Homo sapiens: one gene and its partners. The protein of the gene in region 2 binds, or shares a complex with, the protein of the main gene of each other region. Each region holds a gene or a part of one and is shown on either strand. Other genes may lie near its edges.

The links.
Region 1: ZC3H13 (region 2) and RBM15 share a complex: the UniProt entries of both Homo sapiens proteins name them as parts of the WMM complex.
Region 3: the proteins of ZC3H13 (region 2) and VIRMA are in contact, whole or in part, in a cryo-EM structure (PDB 7VF2), measured with the Homo sapiens proteins. Residues at the interface, in NP_001317494.1 of Homo sapiens: Pro1492, Leu1493, Asp1494, Val1495, Ile1496, Asp1497, Val1498, Asp1499, Trp1500, Ser1501, Gly1502, His1507, Leu1518, Lys1520, Phe1521, Pro1523, Val1526, Met1527, Arg1529, Val1530, Gly1531, Ile1532, Ser1533, Lys1535, Leu1536, Ala1537, Gly1538, Leu1541, Lys1544, Val1545; in NP_056311.2 of Homo sapiens: Leu521, Ser529, Tyr531, Gln532, Leu535, Glu536, Ile538, Leu539, Leu540, Asp541, Val544, Val547, Thr548, Ser551, Leu554, Gln555, His558, Glu561, Val562, Ser564, Glu565, Lys567, Gly570, Asp571, Ala574, Glu575, Thr577, Ser578, Glu621, Glu625.
Region 4: ZC3H13 (region 2) and METTL14 share a complex: the UniProt entries of both Homo sapiens proteins name them as parts of the WMM complex.

The regions. Positions count from the first base shown.
Region 1 is NC_000001.11:110,335,396-110,343,372, forward strand, and holds the start of RBM15 (RNA-binding protein 15), read left to right. Parts: upstream 1-3,981; 5' UTR 3,982-4,010; coding exon 4,011-6,873; intron 6,874-7,977. Other genes in the region: uncharacterized protein LOC124904276, read left to right, coding at 3,040-3,546. UniProt on the Homo sapiens protein: RNA-binding protein that acts as a key regulator of N6-methyladenosine (m6A) methylation of RNAs, thereby regulating different processes, such as hematopoietic cell homeostasis, alternative splicing of mRNAs and X chromosome inactivation mediated by Xist RNA.
Region 2 is NC_000013.11:45,953,597-45,959,374, forward strand, and holds the end of ZC3H13 (zinc finger CCCH domain-containing protein 13), read right to left. Parts: intron 3,702-5,778; coding exon 3,531-3,701; 3' UTR 869-3,530; downstream 1-868. UniProt on the Homo sapiens protein: Associated component of the WMM complex, a complex that mediates N6-methyladenosine (m6A) methylation of RNAs, a modification that plays a role in the efficiency of mRNA splicing and RNA processing.
Region 3 is NC_000008.11:94,487,034-94,495,029, reverse strand, and holds the end of VIRMA (protein virilizer homolog), read left to right. Parts: intron 1-73; coding exon 74-170; intron 171-2,211; coding exon 2,212-2,378; intron 2,379-3,120; coding exon 3,121-3,452; intron 3,453-4,947; coding exon 4,948-5,091; intron 5,092-6,169; coding exon 6,170-6,324; 3' UTR 6,325-7,341; downstream 7,342-7,996. UniProt on the Homo sapiens protein: Associated component of the WMM complex, a complex that mediates N6-methyladenosine (m6A) methylation of RNAs, a modification that plays a role in the efficiency of mRNA splicing and RNA processing.
Region 4 is NC_000004.12:118,702,101-118,710,096, forward strand, and holds part of METTL14 (N(6)-adenosine-methyltransferase non-catalytic subunit METTL14), read left to right. Parts: intron 1-785; coding exon of another isoform or gene 786-835; intron 836-1,834; coding exon 1,835-1,951; intron 1,952-3,510; coding exon 3,511-3,721; intron 3,722-7,897; coding exon 7,898-7,996. UniProt on the Homo sapiens protein: The METTL3-METTL14 heterodimer forms a N6-methyltransferase complex that methylates adenosine residues at the N(6) position of some mRNAs and regulates the circadian clock, differentiation of embryonic stem cells and cortical neurogenesis.

The DNA of each region.
Region 1 (7,977 bases), on a different chromosome or scaffold from region 2:
AGCAAAAGAAGGGTTCAAAGTCCTGGCCAACTAAACCATGGGTCACTTTTATCCACTTTTACACATGTGCCCTCTCTAAAGCACACATGTAAACAGAGGATAAAACCTAACTTGGTTGGGTGCAGTGGCTCACATCTGTAATCCCAGTGCTTTGGGGAGGCTGAGATAGGAGGATCACTTGAGGCCAGTAGTTTGAGATAAGCCTGGGCAACATGGCTAGACCCCATTGCTACAAAAAATTAAAAAATTAGCTTAGTGTGGTGGTGTGTGCCTGTGGTCCTAGCTACATGGAAGGCTGAATCGGGAGGATTGCTTGAGCCCAGGAATTTGAGGTTGCAGTGAGTTATGACTGCACCATTACACTCCAGCCTGGGTGACAGAGCAAGTCCCTGTCTCTAAAACAAAAACAAAAACAAAACAAAACAACAAAAAAGAAAAAACAAAAAAAATAAAAAACTCACTAAGCAGCTTTATGCTTTAAAGCAGGGGTTCCCAGACCCCAGGCTGTGGACCAGTAATGGTCAGTTGCCTGTTAGGACCTGGCTGCACAGCAGGTGAGGGGCAGGGGAGGGAGCATTACTGCCTGAGCTCTGCCTCCTGACAGATCAGCAGAGGCATTTGATTCTCAGAGGAGGGCTAACCCTATTGTGAATGGAGTATGTGAGGGATGTGGGTTGTGTGTTCCTTATGATAATCTAATGCCTGATGATCTGAGGTGGAACAGTTCCATGAAGCTGGTCCCTGATGCCAAAAAGTTTGGGGACCACTGCTTTAAAGAACACAAAGGATTTTCAGGTAGTATCTGCTGGAAGCCAGGGGAGGGGGTAATTTTGGGGGCAATAACACAAAGGAAATGAAAACAATCACTTATTTTAACTACAGCATGGATCCAACTTATTCATTTGTTGTGGAAACACACACACACACACACACACATACACATCACAGGCAATATTTTGGCTGTTACTCTTAATGGAATCTAGGCCTTTTCCATCTAACCATAAAACTTACTAGCACTCTTGGCTCCAGGCAGATTTCCAGTCCCCCTAGGCAAGCCTTTGTACTATAGCCAGCTGCAGGCAGTAGCTTCCATCAAGCTCCCTGGTATTTGAAGTGGCAAGCCACTAAACTTGGCATGCCTCTGGTGCATGTTCACACAGACTGGGTGTCTGTTTATCTCCCTGAATTATTTCTCTCAAATCTTGTGCTCCCTCAACCCCTATCTTGAAGTTTGGAAAACTACTGATTTGGTCATTATCTTTTTCTTTGATCAGTGAGTCACCTTAGCAGGTCTATTTAGGTTAAAAAGTCACTCTGGTGCCTGGTTTATTATCTCGATTGGTTATTACATTGAGTAATCAGATAATGGCTTAACTTCAATTTCCATTTGTGGTCTATTAATATAACCTTGAAACAGATTTAAACCCAGCTATAACTTTTTATTTCATGCTTTTACAAATAATGTGTTCATGTGTTTTTTATCCTCCAGCATCCAGATTTTTATCTTTAAATACCATCTCCCACTAAAAGGAACCAGAGCTCTCTGGAGAAATGGCTGATTCCACAACTGGGGCAGGAAATGTATCAGGTAAGTCTGGAAGAAAATAATGGAGAAAAGAAGAGTGGGAAGAGTGATGCAGATGAAACAAGATTGACATGATTTGATAATTGCTGAAATAGGGTGTTGGGTACACATGGGAGTTCTTTAAAGTATTCTTTTATATATTTTAAACTTTTTCCATAAAAATAGTTTAAGGAAAGTTAAAAATGTTATTTTTTAAACTGAAGGAGTAATAGCGCCCTTTGTAGAAACAAAAGATTTCTACAAAGAAAAGTAAAGTCTCCCTCCTACTCCAGACCCTCGCACACCTCTTCAGGGCAATCCTAGTAACAATTTCCCGTGTATTTGTCAAGAAAGTTTCCATGAAAATATATTTTTTAAATGTACATACTCATAAATACAAACATTTTTAAAACCACAAATGGTAGCGTATTATACACATTATTTTATGCCTTATGAAGTTTTATTTCCCATTTTAATACAATGAAGATGTCTACACATTACAATATTGTGGATTTTTATGCTTTACAATTGAGCTTCTTCCTTCGAGTTTCTTTGATCTAATCAAGAGATAGAAGGCCTCCAGCTTCACATTCCTCACGATTATTTACAAAAAGAAGGATGGCTCAGCCAAGGCTAAATTTAGGTTACAGTCCCTAATCTTAACACAGTTTTTAAGTTTAGGTTTCAGCTTTTGGGATATTATTGTTACCTTGAAAAATGTCACGTTTAAAAACACCTCACACCCTCTACTATAGATTGGATCTTGGGAAATAGGGTTGAGGACCGGATCAATACAAGAATCCTCATAACCTCCGCCCCGGCGCGAACCTGGGAGGGCTGCAGACAGTCTAAAGGCTGTGGTGACCTCAGCGCTGCGTCCCTCCAGCAACCGGCGAGTGCTGGGGCACAGGCCATACCCCCCTAAGCTCGGCATCGCCTGCACCTCTCACAGGTGCTCTGTCCGCCACAGTAACGCACTATGGAAAGGAAAGTTGTACGGCGAACGACTGAAGGAGCCAAACGAGGTGGATCTGGAGCGGCCGCAAGGTGCCTGTGCTGCTGGCTTTTAACACACAATAAGAGTGCCAAGGGATACAAGAAGCCACAGGGGGAAAAACAAGTGACATATCTGCATGGAGCCTAAATTTCGCTTGGTGATTTTCAGGGTAGAAGCATTACATATTAAAAACACTGCTATTTTAGGGGAATACAGAATTTAAAAATCCACACAGATTCGCAACATAAAACATGCCGCCCAAAGACACGTCCGCGGTGTCCCGACAGTTCCGGCTCCGCCCGCGGGCCACGAGGCGGGGAGCGACGGTCACTCCCCTCGGTTACCCGGAGTACTTGGGCGGGAACGGGTAGCTCGCGGGAGAGACGGGCTCCTGGGCGAGGGCTGCGTCTTAGTCGCCCTGCTTCTTAGCTCTCGAGGTCCCGCGTGTTACGTGTTAGCACCGCCCGGGGGCGTCAGCATGACCCGAGGCTGCAGGAACCGTGAACTCTCTGCCCCGCGGGCCCAGGTGACCGCGGGCGGCGCTCTCCCGCGCGCGGGGGGCGGGGCTCCCCCCGGCTGTTCACTCAGCTACCACAGCGACGTAAAATGGTGTCCGCTAGGCGTCCCAGGACGGCTTCCTGAGGGACTGGAGGGCCCCGACAGCCGGAAAGCCTGCCCCGCCCCTTGGCCGGCACAGGTACGACGGCGGGGAGCTCAGAAGTTTCGAACTCCAAGGGCCGAAGCACAGCCAAACACCCCACGGAACTTAACAAATGTTTGTGGGGAGAACGCCGAAAACGCGGGGAGGCGGGGCTGGCGCACAGTCACCCTCTCGCGACATCTAAGTGACGTCGCACAGCAAGCACGTGTTCTAGTCTTTCACCTTCAGTCAGCCTCCTCCGTTATACAGGCCTACCCCTTTAAGCGAGTGATGGACAGTTATTTCAGCCTATCAACTTCCTTGCCGACATCCAATCAGATTTAAACTTCTTTTAGCCGCCGGAGGAGTTGGAAAAAGGGGGTCGAAAGAGGGAGCTTACCGTCTCTCGCGATATCGCTGTGAGCCTGCCTCTCTGGAAAAAACGCCGAAACTGATGGCCCGACCTCCCAAATAGTGGTTTAAAGGACGGGTTTATAAGCCAATGAAAGGGATAAGGAGGTGGGTTGCTGCTGTCACTGAGCAAGAAGTACCGTTACAGGGCAGACTTTTTGTCCAATCAACACCTCAACACTTTGGGTCACGTGACCGCAGAGTGCGAGGGGCGGAGCTACAGTCTGGCGCGAGGAACCGTTAAGATAGACAACAAATGTAACCAATGAGGTACTCCGACTAGGGGGTTGGGAACCCAATAACAGTGGTTGGGCGGGCGCCTTCCTGGAGCGCGGGGAGATGTAAAGATAGACAAATAATTTTCCCAATGAGACTGTAGAAGAGAGAGCAATTGGCCAATGAGGACTGCGGGGCGGGACCCTGTGCCGCGGCGGAGTCCAAGATGGCGGCGTGCGGTTCCGCTGTGTGAAACGAGCGCGGGGCGGCGGGTTACTCAGCTCCGCGGAGACGACCTCCGACGACCCGCAACAATGAAGGGAAAAGAGCGCTCGCCAGTGAAGGCCAAACGCTCCCGTGGTGGTGAGGACTCGACTTCCCGCGGTGAGCGGAGCAAGAAGTTAGGGGGCTCTGGTGGCAGCAATGGGAGCAGCAGCGGAAAGACCGATAGCGGCGGTGGGTCGCGGCGGAGTCTCCACCTGGACAAGTCCAGCAGTCGAGGTGGCAGCCGCGAGTATGATACCGGTGGGGGCAGCTCCAGTAGCCGCTTGCATAGTTATAGCTCCCCGAGCACCAAAAATTCTTCGGGCGGGGGCGAATCGCGCAGCAGCTCCCGGGGTGGAGGCGGGGAGTCACGTTCCTCTGGGGCCGCCTCCTCAGCTCCCGGCGGCGGGGACGGCGCGGAATACAAGACTCTGAAGATAAGCGAGTTGGGGTCCCAGCTTAGTGACGAAGCGGTGGAGGACGGCCTGTTTCATGAGTTCAAACGCTTCGGTGATGTAAGTGTGAAAATCAGTCATCTGTCGGGTTCTGGCAGCGGGGATGAGCGGGTAGCCTTTGTGAACTTCCGGCGGCCAGAGGACGCGCGGGCGGCCAAGCATGCCAGAGGCCGCCTGGTGCTCTATGACCGGCCTCTGAAGATAGAAGCTGTGTATGTGAGCCGGCGCCGCAGCCGCTCCCCTTTAGACAAAGATACTTATCCTCCATCAGCCAGTGTGGTCGGGGCCTCTGTAGGTGGTCACCGGCACCCCCCTGGAGGTGGTGGAGGCCAGAGATCACTTTCCCCTGGTGGCGCTGCTTTGGGATACAGAGACTACCGGCTGCAGCAGTTGGCTCTTGGCCGCCTGCCCCCTCCACCTCCGCCACCATTGCCTCGAGACCTGGAGAGAGAAAGAGACTACCCGTTCTATGAGAGAGTGCGCCCTGCATACAGTCTTGAGCCAAGGGTGGGAGCTGGAGCAGGTGCTGCTCCTTTCAGAGAAGTGGATGAGATTTCACCCGAGGATGATCAGCGAGCTAACCGGACGCTCTTCTTGGGCAACCTAGACATCACTGTAACGGAGAGTGATTTAAGAAGGGCGTTTGATCGCTTTGGAGTCATCACAGAAGTAGATATCAAGAGGCCTTCTCGCGGCCAGACTAGTACTTACGGCTTTCTCAAATTTGAGAACTTAGATATGTCTCACCGGGCCAAATTAGCAATGTCTGGCAAAATTATAATTCGGAATCCTATCAAAATTGGTTATGGTAAAGCTACACCCACCACCCGCCTCTGGGTGGGAGGCCTGGGACCTTGGGTTCCTCTTGCTGCCCTGGCACGAGAATTTGATCGATTTGGCACCATACGCACCATAGACTACCGAAAAGGTGATAGTTGGGCATATATCCAGTATGAAAGCCTGGATGCAGCGCATGCTGCCTGGACCCATATGCGGGGCTTCCCACTTGGTGGCCCAGATCGACGCCTTAGAGTAGACTTTGCCGACACCGAACATCGTTACCAGCAGCAGTATCTGCAGCCTCTGCCCTTGACTCATTATGAGCTGGTGACAGATGCTTTTGGACATCGGGCACCAGACCCTTTGAGGGGTGCTCGGGATAGGACACCACCCTTACTATACAGAGATCGTGATAGGGACCTTTATCCTGACTCTGATTGGGTGCCACCCCCACCCCCAGTCCGAGAACGCAGCACTCGGACTGCAGCTACTTCTGTGCCTGCTTACGAGCCACTGGATAGCCTAGATCGCAGGCGGGATGGTTGGTCCTTGGACCGGGACAGAGGTGATCGAGATCTGCCCAGCAGCAGAGACCAGCCTAGGAAGCGAAGGCTGCCTGAGGAGAGTGGAGGACGTCATCTGGATAGGTCTCCTGAGAGTGACCGCCCACGAAAACGTCACTGCGCTCCTTCTCCTGACCGCAGTCCAGAATTGAGCAGTAGCCGGGATCGTTACAACAGCGACAATGATCGATCTTCCCGTCTTCTCTTGGAAAGGCCCTCTCCAATCAGAGACAGACGAGGTAGTTTGGAGAAGAGCCAGGGTGACAAGCGAGACCGTAAAAACTCTGCATCAGCTGAACGAGATAGGAAGCACCGGACAACTGCTCCCACTGAGGGAAAAAGCCCTCTGAAAAAAGAAGACCGCTCTGATGGGAGTGCACCTAGCACCAGCACTGCTTCCTCCAAGCTGAAGTCCCCGTCCCAGAAACAGGATGGGGGGACAGCCCCTGTGGCATCAGCCTCTCCCAAACTCTGTTTGGCCTGGCAGGGCATGCTTCTACTGAAGAACAGCAACTTTCCTTCCAACATGCATCTGTTGCAGGGTGACCTCCAAGTGGCTAGTAGTCTTCTTGTGGAGGGTTCAACTGGAGGCAAAGTGGCCCAGCTCAAGATCACTCAGCGTCTCCGTTTGGACCAGCCCAAGTTGGATGAAGTAACTCGACGCATCAAAGTAGCAGGGCCCAATGGTTATGCCATTCTTTTGGCTGTGCCTGGAAGTTCTGACAGCCGGTCCTCCTCTTCCTCAGCTGCATCAGACACTGCCACTTCTACTCAGAGGCCACTTAGGAACCTTGTGTCCTATTTAAAGCAAAAGCAGGCAGCCGGGGTGATCAGCCTCCCTGTGGGGGGCAACAAAGACAAGGAAAACACCGGGGTCCTTCATGCCTTCCCACCTTGTGAGTTCTCCCAGCAGTTCCTGGATTCCCCTGCCAAGGCACTGGCCAAATCTGAAGAAGATTACCTGGTCATGATCATTGTCCGTGGTGCGTCCTAAAGTCCATGTGTAACTTGTATTTACTACTTTGACATGGTTCCTGTTTTGTGATGTGTAATGGGATACAGCATCAGATGCAATTTTCTTTTTAGTTGTTAGTTGTAGCATTTTCTTTTTTATATTTTTATAAACGTCTTTAAAATAGAAATCAGGACAGTTTAGCTATTTTTTTGTTTGTTTAGCTATTATTTTAAGTGAAAGGGATGCCCTAAAGGTAGCAGGCAGGCAGACAGATTTGCTTTAATTAGGAGTTCCCACCCTTATGAGTAATTTTTTTTCTCTATTCAGTTGTTTTTTTTTTAATCTTGAGCTTAAAAAATCCTCAGAGTTACAAAACCAAAATTTTGAAAAGTCAGAATTTGGAGAAAGGAGTCCACTGACCATATAAAGAGAGTAATAGCCACCTAAAAATGACTCGATTGGTGTGTAGGTAAATAATTCTTTTACCAGAAATGTGTGTGACTGAAATTTGATCAGGGATCTCAAAGATATGCTGGTAAATTGTATAGCAATGTAATTATTTTAATCAGGTATTTGAGTATTTCTTAAGATACAGTTTATTCCCAGAGAGTTTGCTTTAACATGCATTTTTTAAATCATTTGTTCTAGAGTTCTGTATCCCATATATGCACTTTTGGTTTGTAGCAGTAACTGTTCAGTAAAAATTAAGGACTATGTTACAAACCATATATGTCTTATGCTTACACTAGTATGCAAGAAGTGAGTAGGTGCTTTTAAAATCAGAATTCTTTGGTCAGTTATTGGTGTGTGGTGGTGTTTTTACTGACTTTTTCAGAGAGGTGTAGCAGGTACAGTTCTAATCGTGCATATTTCGAAACTAAGTGTTCTTCATCAAAGATGAGTTTTTGTTTTTGTATCAATTCAAATTTCTGGTTTCAATAATAGAAAGAAGAGTTGTCTGCAGGCTCATAGTCATCTTTTATTTCAGTGGGCATTTAAATCAGCCATATTTGGATTGCAGAATTTCTTAAAAAGTCATCATAAAATGCCTTTGACATGCTCTTTTAAAATTTTGCTTGTCTTTTTATTTTCATATTTAAACAGTAGTGACATTACATTATTGAAAATGTTT
Region 2 (5,778 bases):
TTCTATCACAGTATAACCAGGTGGTGGCTATCGGCTGTAATCCGAACACTTTGGGAGACTGAGATGGAAGGACTGCCTGAAGCTGGGAGTTTGAGATCATCTGGGCAACATAGTAAGATCCCCCCCCCACCTTTTTTTTTTTTTTTTAAACTTGAGACAGGGTATCATACTGTTGCCTAGGCTAGAATGGAGTGGCGCCATCACAGCTCGCTGCAGCCTCAACCTCTTGGGCTCAAGCAATCCTCCTGCCTCAGCCTCCCTGAGTAGCTAAGACTACAGGCACGTGCCACCACACTTGGCTAATTTTTGTATTTTTTGCAGAGATGGTGTCCCACTTTGTTGCCCAGGCTGGTTTTGAACTCTTGGGCTCAAGCAATCCTCCTGCCTTGGCCTACCAAAGTGTTTTTTTAATTTTTCTTTTTAAAATTAGCCAGTTATGATGATGCACACCTGTAGTCCCAGCTACTTGGGAGGCTGAGGTGGGAGGATCCCTTGAGCCCTAGAGTTGGAGGCTGCAGTGAGCTATGATCCTGCCACTGCACTCCAGCCTGGGGGTCAGAGAAAGACCCTGCCTCTGAAAAAAAAAAGGGCTGGGCATGGTGGCTCATGCCTGTAATCCCAGCACTTTGGGAGGCCAAGGCGGGAGGATGGCTTTGAAGCCAGGAGTTTGAGACCAGCCCAGGCAAGACCCCATCTCTATAAAAATAATTTAAAAAAGAAAAAAAAATATGAAAGAAACAGCTCAATAAAGTTGAGAAAGTATGTTTACAGATGCATGTAGAAAGTTATTTAATAAAAATATTTCACCATTTAAACTTGGATTCCCCAGAGTGTCATTCAAAATACTGAAATGGAAAGATCAACAAAATTAATGAATAAAGAAAGTTTATTGGAGATTATTAAAGAAAAATGATAAAATAAGGCAAGTCCTAGATCAGATTTAAATACAATATTTAGAAAGATGGCTATATAATTTTAGCTAGGAAAATCAGTAAAAGGGAATATCCTTAAAAGTGGGAGGGGTTCATATAACCTTTTAAAATAGCAAGTTGAGGTGTAAAAGCATCACCAACAATAGTATGTACCTTAATCTTTACACAATTGGACAGTGAGGAGCAAAGTGGGAGATTCTACCAATGCCACTTACAGAACAGATTTTCAAGTTAATAAGTCATAAAATCCTAATGTAGTCATAGGCTAGGATGGTGACGACAATCTGCAATTACTGGTCAGAGTGAAGCGAAGTGACAGGTCAGATTTTTCAGCATATCAAGTTACTACTTAGGTATGCTTACAAAACTTTGTTAAATAAAGTTGGGTATTGTTAGTATACCCTTTACTAAATGGTGAGGATAGCTGCCAAAATAATCAAAAGGCTAATTATGTGTTAACTCTCATTTATTTTGGATTGCAGACATACTCTTGCCCTTTATCTATCTACACAATTCCTTATTACCAGCAGCTGGAATCCAGTTGTGCAATTATGGCAACTGGACAGACCTGAGCCGTCAGTTATGAGATAGATGACCTTTTAATTGTACTAGCAAACAATTTATAGACTGGAAGATTGTTTTTCGGGAATACCAGTTTAACTGAGACTTTAATTATGGTCCAAGAGCTTTTATGAGAAATTCAATCAAAAATTTTGCTTTAGAAAAATTTTATAGGTATATGTTACTAATACTGAGAATGGTTGAATTAAAAGAAATTGAGACTGAACAGTACATTTCCACTGGAAACATAAAGCTCTGAATGCTGTGACTGAGTGAACAAAGGAATAGTTCTAAATTTTCTTTTGCAACATACATAACAAAAAGATTTCAAACTGAAAGACAACAGGTTTAACTGAATGACAGATTTAACTACATAGTTTTCATTCTATAAATAAATAACTTGTGAAATATCCCTGAAGTCAGTGGACAAATGGGGAAACCATTATTTTTGTCATATTCTACAATTCTGAGAACTAGGATTAGAAATTCTAGGACTTTAAATCTTTGTGCTACAGAGAACAATATTATCCACTAAAATCAGGAAGTGGCTTCCTGAAGGGTATTCATTCTCTGAGGTCATACATTTTTTTTTTCTTTATTCAAAACACTTAGTAAAGGAAAAGGACACAAGGAAATTCTGATTAAAGTCTTCTCCTGCTCTGTTTGCAATTATACATGCTTTCAAAGTCATTTGAAAGTAAGACCATTTCCTTTGGCAGGTATCTTGTATAAAGTAACTTTACAACATATGTTTCTTGAACAGAAACTTTACACCACTGTCATTATGTTACCTATAGAGACAAAACTACTAACACAAGTAATATGGGCTTACAATTATAACACAAACCTGTGAGAGGGCATGATAAAATTAAATTTTGATTGCCTTCTTTTATTATTATCACTACTACTGTCTGCTCACAAATTCTGTGGCCAGAGTCCATTTCAAATCCTTCTAAGAGTCCACTTCATGAGTTAAACATATACATATAGAACAAAGCAGGTATACTGTAATTTTTAAAAGTAAATCTGTTTTACATAGTACAGCTGGAGGCAGTTTAATATAATCAAAAGTTATAGCTCTAAAAAATATGATAGTAGAATATTAAACCTCAGGTTACGTTAGGTTTGTTAACTCTTGATTTGCTTTGAGTAATTTTTTTCTTCAAAAGCCACATTCCAAGAAGATGCCTTAAGTATCAATGAGCTATATTTGAAGTACATCAACTCTGTTTAAAGCTGTCCAACAATAAGGACACAAGCAGTAAAATATCTGAAGCATGAAACATGTAATGTTGATGACTAATGTTCTAGATCATCAGGAATAAGATTAACGAAGAGCAAAGTAAATCTAAAACAAGGAAAGGGAAGATACATTTATTAAAAATAAAAATAGTACACAATCTCTGATAACAAAAAAAGCATTTAGGGTCAAAAGACATCCAACATACATTGTAACAATGCACACATATTAATTAAAAAAAAGACCCATGAAATAATTTTTAAAAAACTTTCAAAAGGAAAAAACTATTTTGGCTTCCTTCTGCTGAAATTCGCCTATAAACATACCACGCCAGCTAGACCAGCATTCCCTTTCACGTGGTCTGTACAACATAGTACTGCACAATGTGAGCAATTACTTTGATGAACACATTGTTTTTGAATAAAATTGTTGGTTCTGTATGGATGATCCAGACATAAATCCATGGTTCCATTTCACAAAAATATTCATAGGCTGGAAGAGCAGTGACAACCATTTTCCAAAATCTTCAGTTTTAACAAAAGGCGCAGAATAAACTACTAAATCTAGATGTTTTCACATTATTTTGCATGAGTGTCAAATACTATGTAAAAATTAACGTAAAATCTTAAGTTGGCCAAAACTAGTGTCTCTAAAGATCAAAATTCTTCACTCTTTTAGCATGGCTGATAAATCTTTTCTGCCTTTGTCACTAATGCTTGTCAAACCAAAGAACTTTGCAAAAGAATATGCACTGCTGAAGGAAGACAGTACCAAAAATACCATATTGAACTTCGGTCTTAAGACACACACAGTTCCTGTTGGATACTGGACTGTGAAAGTTTATTATCTTCAGTCTTTTCATGTCCTGGAGCATGGCAAGTAGTCTTCCGCTTAAATAACCGAAGACTCAATCGAAGTAATTCATTGTCTACCATTGGAGCACTCGTGTAAGCTTGTTTTATGGTGCCCTATTTGAAGAAAACAAAAACAAACTTTAAAAAAGATGTACATTATTAGTAGGAAAGATGGGCAGGTTAACCTCTACCCAAAATATCAAAGTTATAAGAGTATTTCATTTTGGATATTAAATTAGCTTTATTGGATTTCAAAGCAAAATTAGAAAATGTGTTTGGGCTCAATGAATCTTTGAAAAGAAACTTTTAGAGGGCACCTAGTTTAACCTCTTGCTTAAAGTAGGAATCCTCTCAACAATTTCTGACAGGTAATCAACCGGTTTTTACTTTATCATTTCCAATGACAAAACAAACAAAAAACACACTGCACGTTCTGTTGTTGAATGGCACTATTTCTTCCATGTGATGGAATAAAAGCTCTTCTATGGTGCTACACTGTAATTCAATCTTACCTTTACTTGACAATCCTTCAGTTCTATGAAGGTAAGTGCCATGAGTTCCTTCCTCACATAGTTTTTCCTTCTGTAAGCCAAACATTCTATTCTATACTCCTTACCAATCTTTCAATGTCCCATAAAAAGTGAGCTCGAAAACTGAATAAATCCTTTAGAAGACAGCTAATCATGCAGTATGCTGAAGAACTACTACCTCCCTTATACTAAAATATGTATCTATATTATTGTGACTTAAAGTTACATTAGCATTTTTTGGAAAGTTATTGTCATAGAGAAGGGACCAGGGAATGTTACAAAATACAAAACAAAGAAAAGTGCATACTGAAATCAGGGAGCAAAGGAGAATGACTGTAGTGATTCTGTCAAAAGTAATCTTGAACCAGACTTTTAAGTGAGGAAAACTTGATTATACAGTCAAGACATGTTTTAAAAATCTCCTGTTCCTCGTATTTGTTTCCATTTTAATCTTTGGAGATAAACTCATTCTTCTGTTTTTTAAAAATTGAATCCCCCCTACCCACTACCCTAAATCTGAGTATTTTTCTTTAATGAAGTAATCTTTTCTTTAGCAATGTTATATAGTCAAAGATAATTCTGTTTTCCTAACTGCCCCAAGTAAAAAGCTAGTGAAGTTAACCATTTTATCATTACTCTAAACTTTCTAAGCAAAGAATCACACCAACTCTCTTTTGTCATCCAGGTTGAGTAGTCCTCAACTGAAATGCTTTGGACCAGAAATGTTTCAGATTTGGAAATTTTTTTGGATTCTGGAATATTTGCATTACATTTACTTACCCAGTTGAGCATCCCTATCTAAGAATCCAAAATCTGAAATTCTCCAAAGAGCATTTCCTTTGAGGGTCATGTCGATGCTCAAAAGCTTCGGATTAGGAATACTCAGTCTGTACTACCTATACCCATCCACTCACCACCCCAAATAAAAATCCCAGTTTTTTTTTTTTTTTTTTTTTTTTTGAGATGGAGTCTTGCTTTGTCGCCCAGGCTGGAGTGCAGTGGCACGATCTCTGCTCACTGCAAGCTCCGCCTCCTGGTTTACGCCATTCTCCTGCCTCAGCCTCCCAAATAGCTGGGACTACAGATGCCCGCCACCATGCCCGGCTAATTTTTTGTATTTTTAGTAGAGACAGGGTTTCATTGTATTAGCCAGGATGGTCTCGATCTCCTGACCTCGTGATTCACCTGCCTTGGCCTCCCAAAGTGCTGGGATTACAGGCATGAGCCACCACGCCCGGCCAAAAATCCCAGTTTCTTAACTTTAAAGAGTCTAAAATGTTTTCATCTTGGGTTTACCAGATTTCATTAACAGATCTCTTCCAAATCTAATTTCTATTCCTCTTACTTCTCAATCTCTTTATTCCTCTCAAATGCTTATATAGAGTCGCTTTATTTCCCTTTCTTCCAACTTTGTATATTCTCATAAATACTACTCTCATAAATATCCTCATCACTCTAAGAAATTTTTTTCCTTGAGTTTCAATTTAAATAAATTTTTGTAATACGTTTGCTTGTTGAAAGCTTTTCACAAAAAACGTTTAACAGAAATGGAATATTTTAAACTTTATTAAAACAAAATTCATTAATACTGTTGAAGTAAAATAAAGCATATTATACATTTTAATGGCATTCTTCTTTTTACATGTATAAAAGATTAGGAA
Region 3 (7,996 bases), on a different chromosome or scaffold from region 2:
TGTGTCTCAAAAAAAAAAAATTGAAATTTGATTTTAGAATTCTGCTTTTCACCAGATACTTTTCTTGTTCCAGGACTGCCTATGTGCTTGCTGATGTCATGGATGATCAGTTGAAATCTATGTGGTTCACTCCATTTCAGGCTGAAGAGATAGATACAGATCTGGATTTGGTATAAATTATTACTAAATATTTAGAAAAACGTTATTGTTTTTTCTGTTTCTTTATATATTGTTAGCATTATAATAGTTTCCATATTTTATGGCTGTTAAAGTCTACTTGGAAGCAAGTCCTACATTATTTTTATGCCACTTGCCCACTTCATGGCATCCAGAAAGTTTTTTCTCCTGCTTTTTTTGCTTCTTTCTAGTTAGTGATCTGTATTTTGAGGTTGTGACTTTTTTGCTAATTTTTTTTTTTTTTTTTTTTTTTTTTTTTTTGAGACAGAGTCTCACTCTGTCACCCAGGCTGGAGTGCAGTGGCACAATCTCAGCTCACTGCAACCTCCGTTTCCCGGGTTCAAGTGATTCTTCTGCCTCAGCCTCCTGAGTAGCTGGGATTACAGGCCTGTGCCACCACGCCTGGCTAATTTTTTTGTATTTTTAGTAGAGACTGGGTTTTACCATGTTGGTCAGGCTGGTCTCAAACTCCTGACCTTGTGATCTGCCTGCCTTGGCCTCCCAGAGTGCTGAGATTACAGGCGTGAGCCACCATGCCCAGCCAAAAAAAAAATTTTTTTTTAATATAGATAAAGTCTCACTCTGTTACCCAGGCTGGTCTCACTCCTAGCCTCAAACAATCCTCTCTCTTTGGCCTCCCAAAGCGATGGGATTACAGGCGTGAGCCACCACATTTGGCCAGAGAATGTAACTTTTTTAAGGGAAAAATCACACTTTTGCATAAGTTCTATGAAGCACTTTGTTTTCTTACTTGACGGGGTATAGAACAGGGAAAAGTATCCCATAAAACAACAGTTTATTCTTGCATTTGGGTTCAAGGAGAGGAATGGTTGTGCTATGGTGTGGCTCTCAGTTTGGAAACTTGTGAAGAATGTATTTGTTATAGTATAGTATGAATGGGAATTGACATTCTTAAACATAATGCTGAATAGGTAAGAGTATAATTAACTATTTAAAATTTATTGCAGTCTGTTCTATGCTTCTCAGAGATGTGGTAAGGCGAATTATTTTAGCCACATCTTATTATACAGTACATTGTTCCTTTTCTTTATCAAAGAAACATACTGGTGTTCATCATATACAATAAAACTAAGAGAATGATTTGCTTCACATTTGTATTTAGTGTGTTGAGGGCTGCTTTTCCTTTTTTAAAAAACCACATACAATTCAATTAAAAGTGCATTAAAAATTAATTTCTTTTTAGTGCAAGCTGTTCAGTGGTTCTTTAAAACTGTCCTCTCCAGTAGAATTTTATGCAATAATGCAAATATTTTGTAGTCTGCCCTGTCCAAAACAGTAGCCTCATGTGCCTGTTGTACAATTGAAATGTGGATGACTAGGGAACTGAATTTTATTTTGATTTAATTTTGATTAATTTAGATAGGCACATGTTGTTAGTGGCTACCACGTTGGGCAGCACAGGTATAAAATATTTGTTAAAAGTTACTAATTTTTTAACTTTAAGTTGAATCACAACTGTCTTGTGATGATAATTGTAACCCTCTGGATTAGAGAAATTTTAGGTATCTTACATTTGATAAATTTGAATAAAACCTAAGTAAACTGAATGTTGATTTCCCTGAAATTAAACTTAGATGGGAACCTCATTAAATGCATAGAGCTTTTGGGAATCTGTGGCACAGAATCTTTTTGTAATAGAAATGTTGACTATATAAGGCTGGCAGAGTATGTTATTTTCAGATTCTTTTTTTGGAAAAGTTCAGGAGATATTACAGTGTTAATTTATATAGACAAATACTGAGTTTCCTGCTCAGGCATCAAAGTTCTCCTAGATTAATAGCCCTGCTTTGAAGAATGCCACACACAAAAAAAGTAGCATTACTAAGGTGTGTGTGTGTGTTTGTTTTTAAACTACCAATGCCATTTGCTTTTTGAAAAGATGAAAGAGGTAGATCTATAATTTATTTCTTATGAGAGGCAAATATAATTTATAGGTAATAAGAATTTCTGTAGTCAAATGTTATGCTAATAATTACATTTAATATGTGTTTTGTTTCATTATTATGACTGCAGGTAAAGGTTGACTTAATTGAACTCTCTGAAAAATGCTGTAGTGACTTTGATTTGCACTCAGAATTAGAGCGCTCATTTTTGTCAGAACCATCATCTCCAGGAAGAACCAAGACTACTAAAGGATTCAAACTTGGGAAGCACAAGCATGAGACCTTTATAACGTCAAGGTAAAATTTATTCCACTGAAGATCTCAAATGTCATCACATAAGCTTATGTATTTTAGTATATTTTAAGATAGACACATGCGGCCGAGCGCGGTGGCTCACGCCTGTAATCCCAGCATTTTGGGAGGCCGAGGTCAGGAGATCGAGACCATTCTGGCTAACATGTTGAAACCCTGTCTCTACTAAAAATAAAAAAAAAAAAATTAGCTGGTCGTGGTGGTGGGTGCCTGTAGTCCCAGCTACTCGGGAGGCTGAGGCAGGAGAATGGTGTGAACCCGGGAGGTGGAGATTGCATTGAGCCGAGATCACGCCACTGCGCTGCAGCCTGGGCGACAGAGCAAGACTCTGTCTCTCAAAAAAAAAAAAAAAGACACATGCTATTAAACTAGAAAGGAAATTAACATAGCATTCGAATCATGAACATTGTTTGAATTTTTTAAATTTAAACGTAATAATTTGGCCAGGATATACCCAGTACATTTGTTATATTGTTTTCTACAAGATTTTGGAAGGTTTGAATAAGAAGTGAACTGGATTATTTTAAAACATTGTTATTCATAACAATGAAATGTGAGTACTTTTCTTAGCTAGTTTGTTATATTATCCCAGAAGTATGATAGATACTTGCAAAGTTAGCAGAATTGGAGTACAAAAAAACTGAAATATAATTTTGGGTATTATAAAGATTATTTTTGCTAGAAACCTGAAAGAAAAATGTTTTATGGCATGTTTTTGTTTTAATAGTGGAAAATCTGAATACATTGAACCTGCCAAAAGAGCTCATGTTGTGCCACCACCAAGAGGAAGGGGCAGGGGAGGATTTGGACAGGGTATACGACCTCATGATATTTTTCGTCAGAGAAAACAGAACACAAGTAGACCACCATCTATGCATGTGGATGACTTTGTTGCTGCTGAAAGTAAAGAAGTGGTTCCTCAAGATGGAATACCTCCACCAAAACGGCCACTCAAAGTATCACAGAAGATTTCTTCCCGTGGTGGGTTTTCAGGCAATAGAGGAGGACGGGGTGCTTTCCACAGTCAGAATAGGTTTTTCACACCACCTGCTTCAAAAGGTAACTAATTAGTATGTATTTTCTAATGGGTTAGAATATTGGAATGTTAAAATATTGAATGAAAGTGATTTAGATGGAAGAGATTCAGATAAACAGTTTTCCTGTTGCTGCAGTTGAGCCACCTCTGGACTAGTGGTACTGTTTGCAGAGTACTCTATTGGATAGAAGAAAGAAACTTTTTTTCAATGAACCTTTCATGCATTGTACTTTTAATAATGAGTTTAGAAGTCTTGGCTAATTATTCCCCCCGGCCTTTTTTTTTTGAGACAAGAGTCTTGCTCTGTCGCCCAGGCTGGGGTGCGGTGGTGTGATCTCAGCTCACTACAAACTCTGCCTCCCTGGTTCAAGTGATTTTCCTGCCTCAGCCTCCCAAGTATTTGGGACTACAGGCATGCACCACAATGCCCAACTAATTTTTGTATTTTTAGTAGAGATGGGTTTTCGCCGTGTTTGCCAGGCTAGTCTCAAACTCCTGACCTCAAGTGATTCACCCCCCTTGGCTTCCCAAAGTGCTGGGATTACAGGCATGAACCACCGTGCTCAGCCTTATTTTCCTTTTTACATTGAGAATTATACATTTTCTGAGTAATACCCTTACATTATTTTCACAATTATACTTAACAGTTTTCTTAAGATTGTTCTGTGCAGTTCACCATTGATCTGCCTAATCTGCTTGTTTTCTAATGTTATATTTAGTCTGTTTGAAATTGTTACAAGATTTTTTTTTTTGGAGACAGAGTTTTGCTCTTCTTGCCCAGGCTGGAGTGCAATGGCGCAATCTCGGCTCACTGCAGCCTCTGCCTCCTGGGTTTAAGCGATTCTCCTGCTTCAACCTCCCGAGTAACTGGGATTATAGGCATGCGCCACCACACCCGGCTAATTTTTATATTATTAGTAGAGACGGGGTCTCACCATGTTGGCCGGGCTGGTCTCGAACTCCTGACCTCAGGTGATCCACCCACCTTCGGCCTCCCAAAGTGCAGGGATTACAGGCGTGAGCCACTGCACCTGGCCTTACAAGATTTTAGAAACTAGGGATACTTACAGAAATTATACTTTAGTAGTGGATTGATAAACATGTTTTCATACCTGCTGAGTTAGGAGGGTGAGAGTGAAAGAGAATCTGTGTTTATATTAATAACAAACACTTAGATTAGGTGTGTCAGGAACTGTTATAAGCACTTTACATATTATAACCTCATGTCAACCCCATGAGGCAAGTTCTCTTAGTACTCCCAATTTGCAGAAGAGAAAATTGTCAGTCAGCTGACCAGGGCACATAAATACAAGTGGTAGAACCAGTATTTGATCCCTGGCAGTTTGGCTCTAGAGCCTCTGCTCTTAACCACTGTGATGTTGCCACTATATAGTACAGTCAGTTTGCAGAATTTCAGTTTCTTTTCCATTCTTTTGAAGATTAAGAAAAATCTGTCACTTAAAAGAATCCAACTGAAGTTGTGAAAAAAGTGATTTTGATTGTGCTGTTTGTGTTTAGGAAACTACAGTCGTCGGGAAGGAACAAGAGGCTCCAGTTGGAGTGCTCAGAATACTCCTCGAGGAAATTACAATGAAAGTCGTGGAGGCCAGAGCAATTTTAACAGAGGCCCTCTTCCACCATTACGACCCCTTAGTTCTACAGGTATACATCCTTGCTACTTGATATTGCTGAGAGAAGGGAAGTAAATTCCTCCTTTAAAATTGTTGATATCATATACAGAGGGGGCTAGGGGTGCTAATCTCCCCATCTCCTTGCTCCACACAGTCAAAAATCTAAGTATAACTTTGACTTCCCCAAAACTTAACTACTGCTAGTATACTGTTGACTGGAAGCCTTACAGATAACATAAACAGTTGATTGACACATATTTTATATGTTATATATATATTATATAATGTGTTACAATTAAATAAGCTGGAGAAAAGAAAATGTTATTAAGAAAATCATAAGGAAGAGAAAATACATTTACTATTAAGTGGAAGTGGATCTTCATAAAGGTCATAACATTCCATAGGCTGAGGAAGAGGAGGAGAGGTCTTACTTTCTTAGGAGCAGCAGAGGTGGAAGAAAATCCTCATATAAGTGGACCTAGGCAGTTGAAACCCATGTTGTTCAAGGGTCAACTGTACTCTCATTCTGGAAGAGAATATTTTAGAGTATAGACTTAAAGTTCTAAAGTTTATATCCTTGAATGAATGCCCAATATACATCTTCTGTAAAAATAATCAAATTTTTAGTTTCTGAACTGTTTGTATAATCTGAACAGTTTCATGGTGATGTGCTCTTATTTTTATGTTTCAGTAATGAAAGCCAATGCTTAAGGTATCTTTCTGACCACAAAGTATTTTAATAACAGAGATACCTTTATACAGCATATATTTTTTTGGTTATAGTATTGTCTTAGGTGTGTAAGCACATAACCTTTTTTTTTAAAACATTTATCTAGTCCAGAATTTTACTTATCAGAAGTAGCTTTTGGTTTCAAATGCACATTTTTAAAAAATAATAGTTTTATTTAGGATATAATTCTCATATACCATATAGTTTACCTGTTTAAAATGTATAATTCAAAAATCTTTGGCCCATTCACCGTGCTTGCACGTGAGCTTTAAAAGAGAATAGAGTAATTCTTGGTTTGAGCTCAGTGTCGTAGATTAGTATTTATAATCTTGGAAAAGAAAGGACATTGGAACTAAAAACTGTATTCTTTCTTTTACAGGTTACCGCCCAAGTCCTCGGGACCGTGCTTCTAGAGGTCGTGGGGGACTTGGACCTTCCTGGGCTAGTGCAAATAGCGGCAGTGGAGGCTCAAGAGGAAAGTTTGTTAGTGGAGGCAGTGGTAGAGGTCGTCATGTACGCTCCTTTACACGATAAAAATCCTTTTGGGAACATCTTAACTGTATATGAACATTTCACGAGGACAATAAAAATAAGACATTGAAGGACCAATTTAGACTTAGCAGTTATCTGGAGACATCTGAGAGAATATTTTTATCTGAAGAAAGCAGAATTTGTTTGATACCTAACAAGATTTCAATAAAAATCCAAACTTTGTATGTACGTTTGTATATATTTTCCCTTTTTTGTATGACTATTTATTTAGAAAATTTCTAGGTGAAAAACTAAATGATGTTTTGTATTTTTCTTGCCTATAGCACAGATATTCTCAAACTTTCTCAGCTCATGACACTATTTAGTGCCTCAGTACTTTTTTCACAGCATACCTGGTCCAAAAGAAATATCTAATACTTGTGTTTATTAAGCAGTTAGATCCAACAGCTTAATAAGAATGTACATCATCACCACTAGTAACTGTGGACACTGCATGTCTCAAACCTTGGAATCAGTATCATTTTCTTTTCCTCTCTGCTTCTTGCACAGTACTTTTTATCAAACTGCTGAAAACCCAGTTTTGTAAAGATATGTTGTTATAGAAAGGAATATAATGCTATTTAATGTTGAAAATGTAAACTACCTCAAAGTAGTAGTTTATGTGATGTCCAACAGGTGTTGCTATGTTTTTCTCAAAAATTTTAAAATATTGTGTGGCACCCATGTTAATTTGCTAAGGTGCCCTGCTACACAGTTTGGGAACCATGGCTGTACCAAAAGAAACAAAATACTCCTCTCCTTTGTATTAGAAATCTGAACTTTGCATTTCAGCTTTGGACCTACTGACACTATTTTATTATACAAATTATTTAAAGCCTAAAATAAGGAATATCCTAATACTATTATTTTGGGAATCAGAAACATCTAATAAAGCTGGACTTTATACATAGAAATAAAGCTTACAACTTTGAGAAAGTAGCCATATTTTCCCCAAGATACGTCTTAACACACTGAGTCTATATAAGTGGCGTAAAATACAGAGTTATCTTAATCAGAAAAGGAGTGTATGAGTCTCATTCCATCCTTTTATCAATCTCTGTTTTGGAGAACTATTTGTGAGTGAATACAATCTTCATTAAGAAAACACTTTGAAGAAAAGCTTAGCTGTAAAGAATCAGAGGTTTAGGTGAAAGGTTATGGCAATCTTTTCATAACTAGTGGCCTTGAAAAACCCAAGTCTTGAGCTGCTGTAAGAAAATACCATAGACTGGGTGGCTTAAACAATAAAAATTTATTTCTCAAAGTTCTGGAGGCTTGGAAGTCCAAGATCAGGGTGTCAGCATGGTTGGGTTCCAGTGAGGGCCCTCTTCCTGGCTTGTATGCAGCTACCTTCTTAAGTGCTCACATAGTCTTTCCTTGGTGCTTGCTTGGAGAGAGAGCGAGCTCTTGGGTCTTTTTCTTCTTACAAAGGCACTGTTCCCACCATGCAAGTCTCATCCTCATGATCTAATCTAAATCACAGTACCTCCCAAAGGACCCACCCTTTTAGTACTACTACATTGAGGGTTAGGAGTTCAATATATGAATTTAGGGAAACACAAGACTCAGCGCATCAAGGTAACTTAAATCCCCTTTGATCCTGAAACCTAACAGGCTCATTTTCCCCAAAGATATATTTTACACATTAGGTAAAATTCGAAATTTGCCCCAATGT
Region 4 (7,996 bases), on a different chromosome or scaffold from region 2:
GATTAGAAGGTTTTTATCTTTTTTTTTTTTTTTTTTTGAGGCAGAGCCTTGCTCTGTCGCCCACGCTGGAGTGCAGTGGTGCGATCTTGGCTCCCTGCAAAACTCTGCTTCCCAGTTGAAGCAGTTCTCCTGCTTCAGCCTCCTGAGTAGCCATCCAGGAGGTTTTTATCTTATTTACTTAATGTAGCAGTTTATCATACTGGTGAGAGTTCGGCGAAAAATGATTTAAAAAATAATTCAGCATGAGAAATACTCATGAGATTTTGATAAATTAGTGGATTAGGGCATGTAGAATTTAGGTCATAGTGATGTTAATGACACCTGGTGCAAAATAAATATTTAGTAACAGGAACAGATATTGATCTTGATTTTGGAGATTTTAAAATAAAATTCTGCTGGGCGCAGTGGCTCATGTCTGTCATCCCAGCACTTTGAGAGACAGAGGCGGGCAGATCACTTGAGGCCAGGAGTTCAAGACCAGCCTGGCCAACATGGTGAAACCCCATCTCTACTAAAAATACAAAAATTAGCACAGCATGGTGGCACGTGCTTGTGGTCCCAGCCACTTGGGAAGCTGAGGCATGAGAATCACTTGAACCTGAGAGGCGGAGGTTGCAGTGAGCCAAGATTACCACACTGAACTCCAGCCTAGGTGAGACTCCATCTCAAAAAATAAAATAAAATAAAATTCTGAGTTTCATTTTGAGGTGTTATCTTACATTACCCAATAAGCATTCCTGAAAAGTGTATGTTTTATACTCTATCTTTTTTTTTTTTTGGTTCAGGGGGAACTCCCAACAGGATTTCCTGTGGTGGAAAGGAAGCTTGTTGGAAGGTTTTATTATTATTATTATTATTATTATTATTATTATTATTATACTTTAAGTTCTGGGATACATGTGCAGAACGTGCAGGTTTGTTACATAGGTATACATGTGCCATGGTGGTTTGCTGCACCCATCAACCCGTAATCTACATTAGGTATTTCTCCTAATGCTGTCCCTCCCCTAGCCCCCAACCTGCCTCTACTATATCTTGATATGTACTTGATCATCATACCAGCAATACTGTACTTATTTGTTTATTTTTCCCTCCTTTACTCTTAAAGTTGATGGGGATAGGGACTGTGTCTTATTCATGTTTTTATTTCCAGCAGCTAACCAGCACTGGCATATGGTAGACTTTCAGTTGTCACTGTGAGCAGTCATTTAGCTGGTATTTGTTTTATGTTAATGTATAACAGCTTCTAGGACATTAAGGTTCACATCTCTGTTTTCTAGATTATATAGAGATGAAAGTACCATTTTACCCAACAAAGAGATACACGTAACAATTTTAAGTTTGAACATTTTTACAGTTGTATTAAAAATAGAAATAAGATTTTATAAGACTCTCATTTGAAGTTAGCGTTTAGAAAATTTTCAATAGTATGTAGCTTTGTCAGAGAATAGAATATTGAGTTGGCAGGAATCAAATTGTGTTTTGGATTGTTTTGTGATTACAGAAGGTCTGAGTGCTTACAATTTAAAACCCCATGTCCATTGATGACAATAGAATGTAGAATTGGGAGATGATGTAATCCTTTCTATGTTTTGATATTTAACTATATATATGACATTGATATCCAAAAGATATATATGCATTCCGTATTATGGCTATGTATTTAAAGACTGGCATTTCTTTTTATATTCTACACTGAAACAAAATTACCTTGAAACCTTGGAATATAGTGTCTGAAACCTCTAGAAAGTTTTTTTTAATGCTGGTTGTTATTGTTAAGTATTGTTTATTTCTTTAAGTTAAGGATTTGTGTTTAAAATTCTTTTGTTTCTAGTGTTTACGAAAATGGGGTTACAGAAGATGTGAAGATATTTGTTGGATTAAAACCAATAAAAACAATCCTGGGAAGACTAAGACTTTAGATCCAAAGGCTGTCTTTCAGAGAACAAAGGTATTGCCTTTACTGATTTGTTTTTTTTAATTTTTGTGATTTTCTCTCAAGCTTTTCCAAATAACTGTATACTGTTTAATTAACTTCAGTGAAAAGGTCCTTTTCTTAGACTTGTAAAGACAGCATTGAGCATTACAGGAATACATCCAAATTAGTTTTAAAATGTTTTATTCATTATCTTAGATCAACCCCACCATGCTAGAAAGGGGAGTATATATTCCTCCATGTCCTAAATGCCATATTTCTAAGTTAGATAAAGGCTTTTGATCACACTCACCCGCAGAATTTTTCTAGGCTCAGAAAGAAGAGATAGCAAGATCGCAAGACTCGAGTTGGCCAGCTTAGAGACGTATTTCTCTCTTCTTTCCTTCTTTTTCCTTTACAAGAACCCCTGAGAACTTCTGTTTGTTGTGACTCTGCCCTGCTAGTATCAGGCTTTAACAGTTTTTGTTCTTACTTTTTAGGGAGCCTCTGGTGGGAGGGTCTTTCTTATTAAGTCTTTTTTGTACTGGAATCATGCCTAGGTAATGAAGCCTCCGTAAAATCCCAAGATGGGTTGGAGAGCTTCTGGGTTGGTGAACCTGTGGAGTTTCTGGGACGGTGGTCTGCTTGGAGAGGGCACAGCAGCTCCATGCCCCATGCCCCATGCCGCATACTTTTCATTATGTGTCTCTTCCATCTGGCTGTTTTTGAGTTGTATCCTTTTATAATAAATAGGTCATAGTAAGTAAAGAGCTTTCCTGAATTCCTCGAGCTGTTCTAGCAAATGATCTAACCTGAGGAAGAGGTCATGGGAACCTCTGATTTATAGCTGGTTGGTCAGAAGCACAGGTGACAATCTGGACTTGTGATTGGTATCTGAAGGTGGGGCATTCATGTGGTTCTCAGCCCTTGACCTGTGGGGTCTGCACTAACTAGGTAGATAGTGTCAGAATTGAATTGAATTATAGTGTTGATGGAGAAGTGGAGAATTGCTTGGTATGGGAAAAACCCACACATCTGGGATCAGAAGTGAAGTATTCTGAAAATACTGAGTGTTGTGAGTGCGTAGAAGAGTTTGTTTTTCTTATTTACATGGCAGTCTTTCCTCATCCAGAGATCCAGGTTTTCCTGTTGTTTTGTTGCCCATAGAACTGTATCTCACCAGAAATGGTGGCTCACTTCTGTAATCCCAGCACTTTGGGAGGCCGAGGTAGGTAGACCACTTGAGCCCAGGAATTTGAGACCAGCCTGAGCAACATGGCGAGACCCTGTCTTTACAAAAAATTTAAAAATCAGCCAGGTGTGGTGGTGTGTTCCTGTGGTCCCAGCTACTTGGGAGGCTGAGGCGGGGGATTGCTTGAGCCCAGGAGGTCAAGGCTGCAGTGAGCTGAGATCGTGCTACTGTACTCCAGCCTGGGTGACAGAGCGAGACCCAGTCTCAAAAAGAAGAGAAATAACTGTATCCCAAAGATTCCGAGAAATGAGGATTGTTTTAGAATTGAGGACATCAGAAATGTGAAAGGTTTTGGAATGACTGTTGATGAAAACAGATTAATTGGTCTGCTCTTGTTATTTAGGAACACTGCCTCATGGGGATCAAAGGAACTGTGAAGCGTAGCACAGACGGGGACTTCATTCATGCTAATGTTGACATTGACTTAATTATCACAGAAGAACCTGAAATTGGCAATATAGAAAAACCTGTAGAAATTTTTCATATAATTGAGCATTTTTGTCTTGGTAGAAGACGCCTTCATCTATTTGGAAGAGATAGTACAATTCGACCAGGTAGGACCTCAGTTAACAACAACTTTTATGATTCTTTGGGTTATGCATGTCAAGAAATAGGACATGGTGCTGTGTAAAATAAAGTTCTTATGCATTTGATTCCTTTTCTTGCTGTACTTCAAATATGAACAGTTTCAGGTCCACAGCAAAATTGAGAGGAAGGCACAGAGACTTTTCCATATACCTGCTGCCCCCACACATGCATAACCTTTCCAGTTATCAGTATCTCCCAACAGAGTGGTACATTTGTTACAAATGATGAACCTACATTGACACATCATAATCACTCAAAGTCCACAGTTTACATTAGGATTCACTCTTGGTTGTAGTAATTCTGTGAGTTTGGACAAATGTATAATGACATCTATCCACCATTATAGGATCATACTCAATAGTTTCACGGCCCTAAAAATCCTCTGTGCTCCACTTATTCATCCCTACCCACAACTCTTGACAACCACTTATCTTTTTACTGTCTCCGTAATTTGCCTTTGTCAGAATGTTACATAGTTGGAATCGTATAGTATGTAGCCTTTTTAGATTGGCTTCTTTCATTTGGTAATTGGCATTTAAGATTTCTCCATTCCTTTTCATGGTTTGATAGGTCATTTCTTTTTAGTGCCGAATAATATTCCATTGGATGTACCGCAGTTTTTATATCCATTTACCTACTGAAGGACATCTTCCAAGTTTTGGCAATTATGAATAAGCTACAATGGAAATCTGTGTACAGGTTTTTGTGTGGTCGTAAGTTTTCAGCTCCTTTGGGTAAATACCAAGGAGCACAAATGCTGGATTGTATGGTAAGAATGTTTAATTTTGTAGGAAACTGCCAAGACTGTCTTCTGAAGTGCCTGTACCATTTTACATTTCCACCGGCAGTGAGAGTTCCTGTTGCTCTGCATCCTCACCAGCATTTGGTGTTGTCAGTGTTCAGGATTTTGGCAATTTTAGTGTGTGTGTAGTGGTATCATAATGTTGTTTTAATTTGCATTTTTCTGATGACATATGATGTAGAACCTCTTTTCATATGCTTATTTACTATCTGTATGCCTTTTTTGGTGAGATGTCTTTTAAGGTCTTTGGCCCATTTTTTATTTGGCTGTTTGTTTTCTTATTGTTGAGGTTTAAGAGTTACTTGTATATTTTGGAGAATAGTACTTTATCAGATTTGTTTTTTGCAAATATTTTCTCTTATTCGGTGACTGTCTTCTCACTGCCTTGTTGCATGTTTATTTTTATTTAATTACTTTCTGCTTTTTTATTTTCTTTCTAGTTTCTTTGGATTTACTTGCTGTCTTTCTATCTGAAGTATTTTTAGATTGATATTCAGGTTAGGGGTACAGGTTTAATTTTGTACTTGTAAACTACTAGTACAAAAAGAAAGAAAGAAATTGAATAGGCAAGAGTTTCAAGAAAGAAACTCTTGCAAAAATTTAGTATTAGCTACATGCAAATAAGGAAGAAAAATTTGATGGATCAAAGTGTAGATGTTTGGGAGTTAGCCATATAAATAATAGTATGTGCAATTGAGAGTCTGTTCAAGAGACCTTAATTTATGGCCAGGCACTGTGACTCAAGCCTGTAATCCCAGCACTTTGGGAGGCCAGGGTGGGCAGATCACTTGAGGTCAGGAGTTTGAGACCAGCCTGGGCAACATGGTGAAACCCTGTCTCTACTAAAAATACAAAAATTAGCTGGGTGTGGTGGTGTGTGCCTGTAATCCCAGCTACTTGGGAGGCTGAGGCAGAAGAATCACTTGAACCTGGGAGGCAGAGGTTGCAGTGAGCCGAGATTGTGCCACTGTACTCCAGCCAGGGTGACAGAATAAGACCCTGTCTCAAAAAAAAAAAAAAAAAAAAGACCTTAGTTTATTAAGTTGCTCCTCAAACACACTTCTTCCTCAAGGACATAGCCTAAGGTATTTCACATATACCTTAGGAATACAATTTACCATTGCTTTAAAATAAAATTTACAGATAACTATGTGAGTCAAATACACTCTGAAGCCAGACAATTTTTTTTTTTTTTTGAGACAGGTTCTCACTCTTGTTCAGGCTGGAGTGCAGTGGCACGATCTTGGCTCACTGCAACCCCCGCCTCCCAGGTTCAAGTGATTCAGCCTCCTGAGTAGCTGGGACTGCAGGCGTGTGCCACCACACCTGGCTAATTTTTTGTATTTTTAGTAGAGATGATGTTTCACCATGTTGGCCAAGCTGGTCTCGAACTCCTGACCCCAAGTGATCGCCCGCCTTGGCCTCCAAATTGCTGGGATTACAAGTGTGAGCCACCACACACCCAAGCCAGACTATTTTAAACTTACTCTGTTCTTAGTAATACCTTTAGAATTTCTGATAAAACACAATGTTGCTGTGCAGAATTTGGAAGAGAGGGGAATCCCTTGGACTTCTATAGCCAGTTTACTCTGCAAGGATTTCCATGTTTTACGTAAGAGACAGTATAGCAAGGGAGACAGAGTATTAGTTATTTTTATTATATCTTTAAATTTTCTGTTTCTTATTCCTTGTTTGTGGTGTTGTGTTCCACATATATTGAATATTATCTTCCATAATACCACAAACATGCCAAAAAACAAACTAGAAGGCAGCAAATAAAAATCTCATAGGTTTAATAGTCAGTGAGAGCCCATAGGTGTGGAATGTGCTCTTGATCATGGTATCTGCCAGGTAATACATAAAAGACACAGTATAATTAACCTTTTTTTCTTCAACTATTACAAATCTTACTGTATTCATGCACTTTTAGAAACTAAAAATGTTTTAAAAAACAATGAACTAAGTATTGTACAGAAATGGCTACTGTATTTTAGAATGTGATCCTAGTGAAATATTTTTCATTTTATAGCTTTTTATGATGCATCTACTTTTCTAAGAAATAACCTAAGGATGATGGGGCAGATATATTATAAACCTAACTTTGCAGATAAATAACCTAATTCTTACAGATAATTGGACCTGTCCCAAATAATGCTGTGTCTCTTATAATGCTCCAGAGGCATATTTTCAGGGTCCCCTACAAAGGGCATGTCTGTAAGAGTCACCACACCCAAAGAACCCCAGAGCACCGTGTCTGTATTGGGTATTTGTAGTTCCTTCCATTCTAAAGACAGTTTAATCAATCAGAAAATATCCTTATTACAAGAAAAGTTGTCTAGCAATATAATTGGCAAAATAGCTGTTTACCTACAGAAGTATAATGTGCAGTGGAAATTCTGAGAAAGAAGAAATAATTTTCATTTCATGTAAGAAATATATTTGAATTGGATGTTGAAGGGTGGGATTTTTAACAGGTTGACAGGATAGAAAAGAAAATAATATGGGCACAAAAATCGGGGTTAGTATAGAAGCAGTTACTATAGTAGTTCATTGTTTTCCTTAGAGGTTCATGAAAAGCATTAATGAGAAATGTTATTGGAAAGTTCATTCAGCCATCATTGTAAAAGATCTTAGATTTTATATTTATGAATTTGGGCTTTGTGGAAACAGTTGGAAGGTTTTTGAGCAGAGAAGTGACATGTTTTAAGCTTTGCTTTAGGCTTTCCACTTTTAGAGGGAGGAGAAGCTATAGGTTGGGAGATCATTACAGTATATATGTGTGTCTGTTACACATGTGTTATATGGTAGGGTATTGACCTTGTAAAAAAAAATAAAGGCTTAAATTTGAGGGTGGCAGCAGAAATGGAAAGATAGGAATGAGTGGGAGTAACATGGTAGTGGTTGAATTTCTCAGACCTATCAACTGAGAATATTTTCTAGTTAGCAAGTGTAGAGCAAAAGTTGGTTCCAAGATTTTAATCAGAAAATGGCACCATTTACATAAATAGGAAGATTATATATAATTTATTACAGTTTCACTAAACCCAAACTCAGTGTAATGTATGGGATTTTTTTTCTCTAAGTTCTATTCTCACAAAAGATAGTACGTGGATGAGGAGGATATATTACAAAAGTTACAATCTAGGAGGAGAAACAAGATATATACCTGTGAAATCTTTAAAACATGACCACAATTAAGTGCCATTCTGTAAAAGAGATCAGTATTGGATGAATGATGGGGACATCTTTAAGAATGCATTGGGGATTTGAACTAGCTTCTAAAGAATTAATAAGAGAGAATTGCAAATAAAAAGTATAATCTTTTTTTCCTCCATTTCAGGCTGGCTCACAGTTGGACCAACGCTTACAAATAGCAACTACAATGCAGAAACATATGCATCCTATTTCAGTGCTCCTAATTCCTACTTGACTGGTTGTA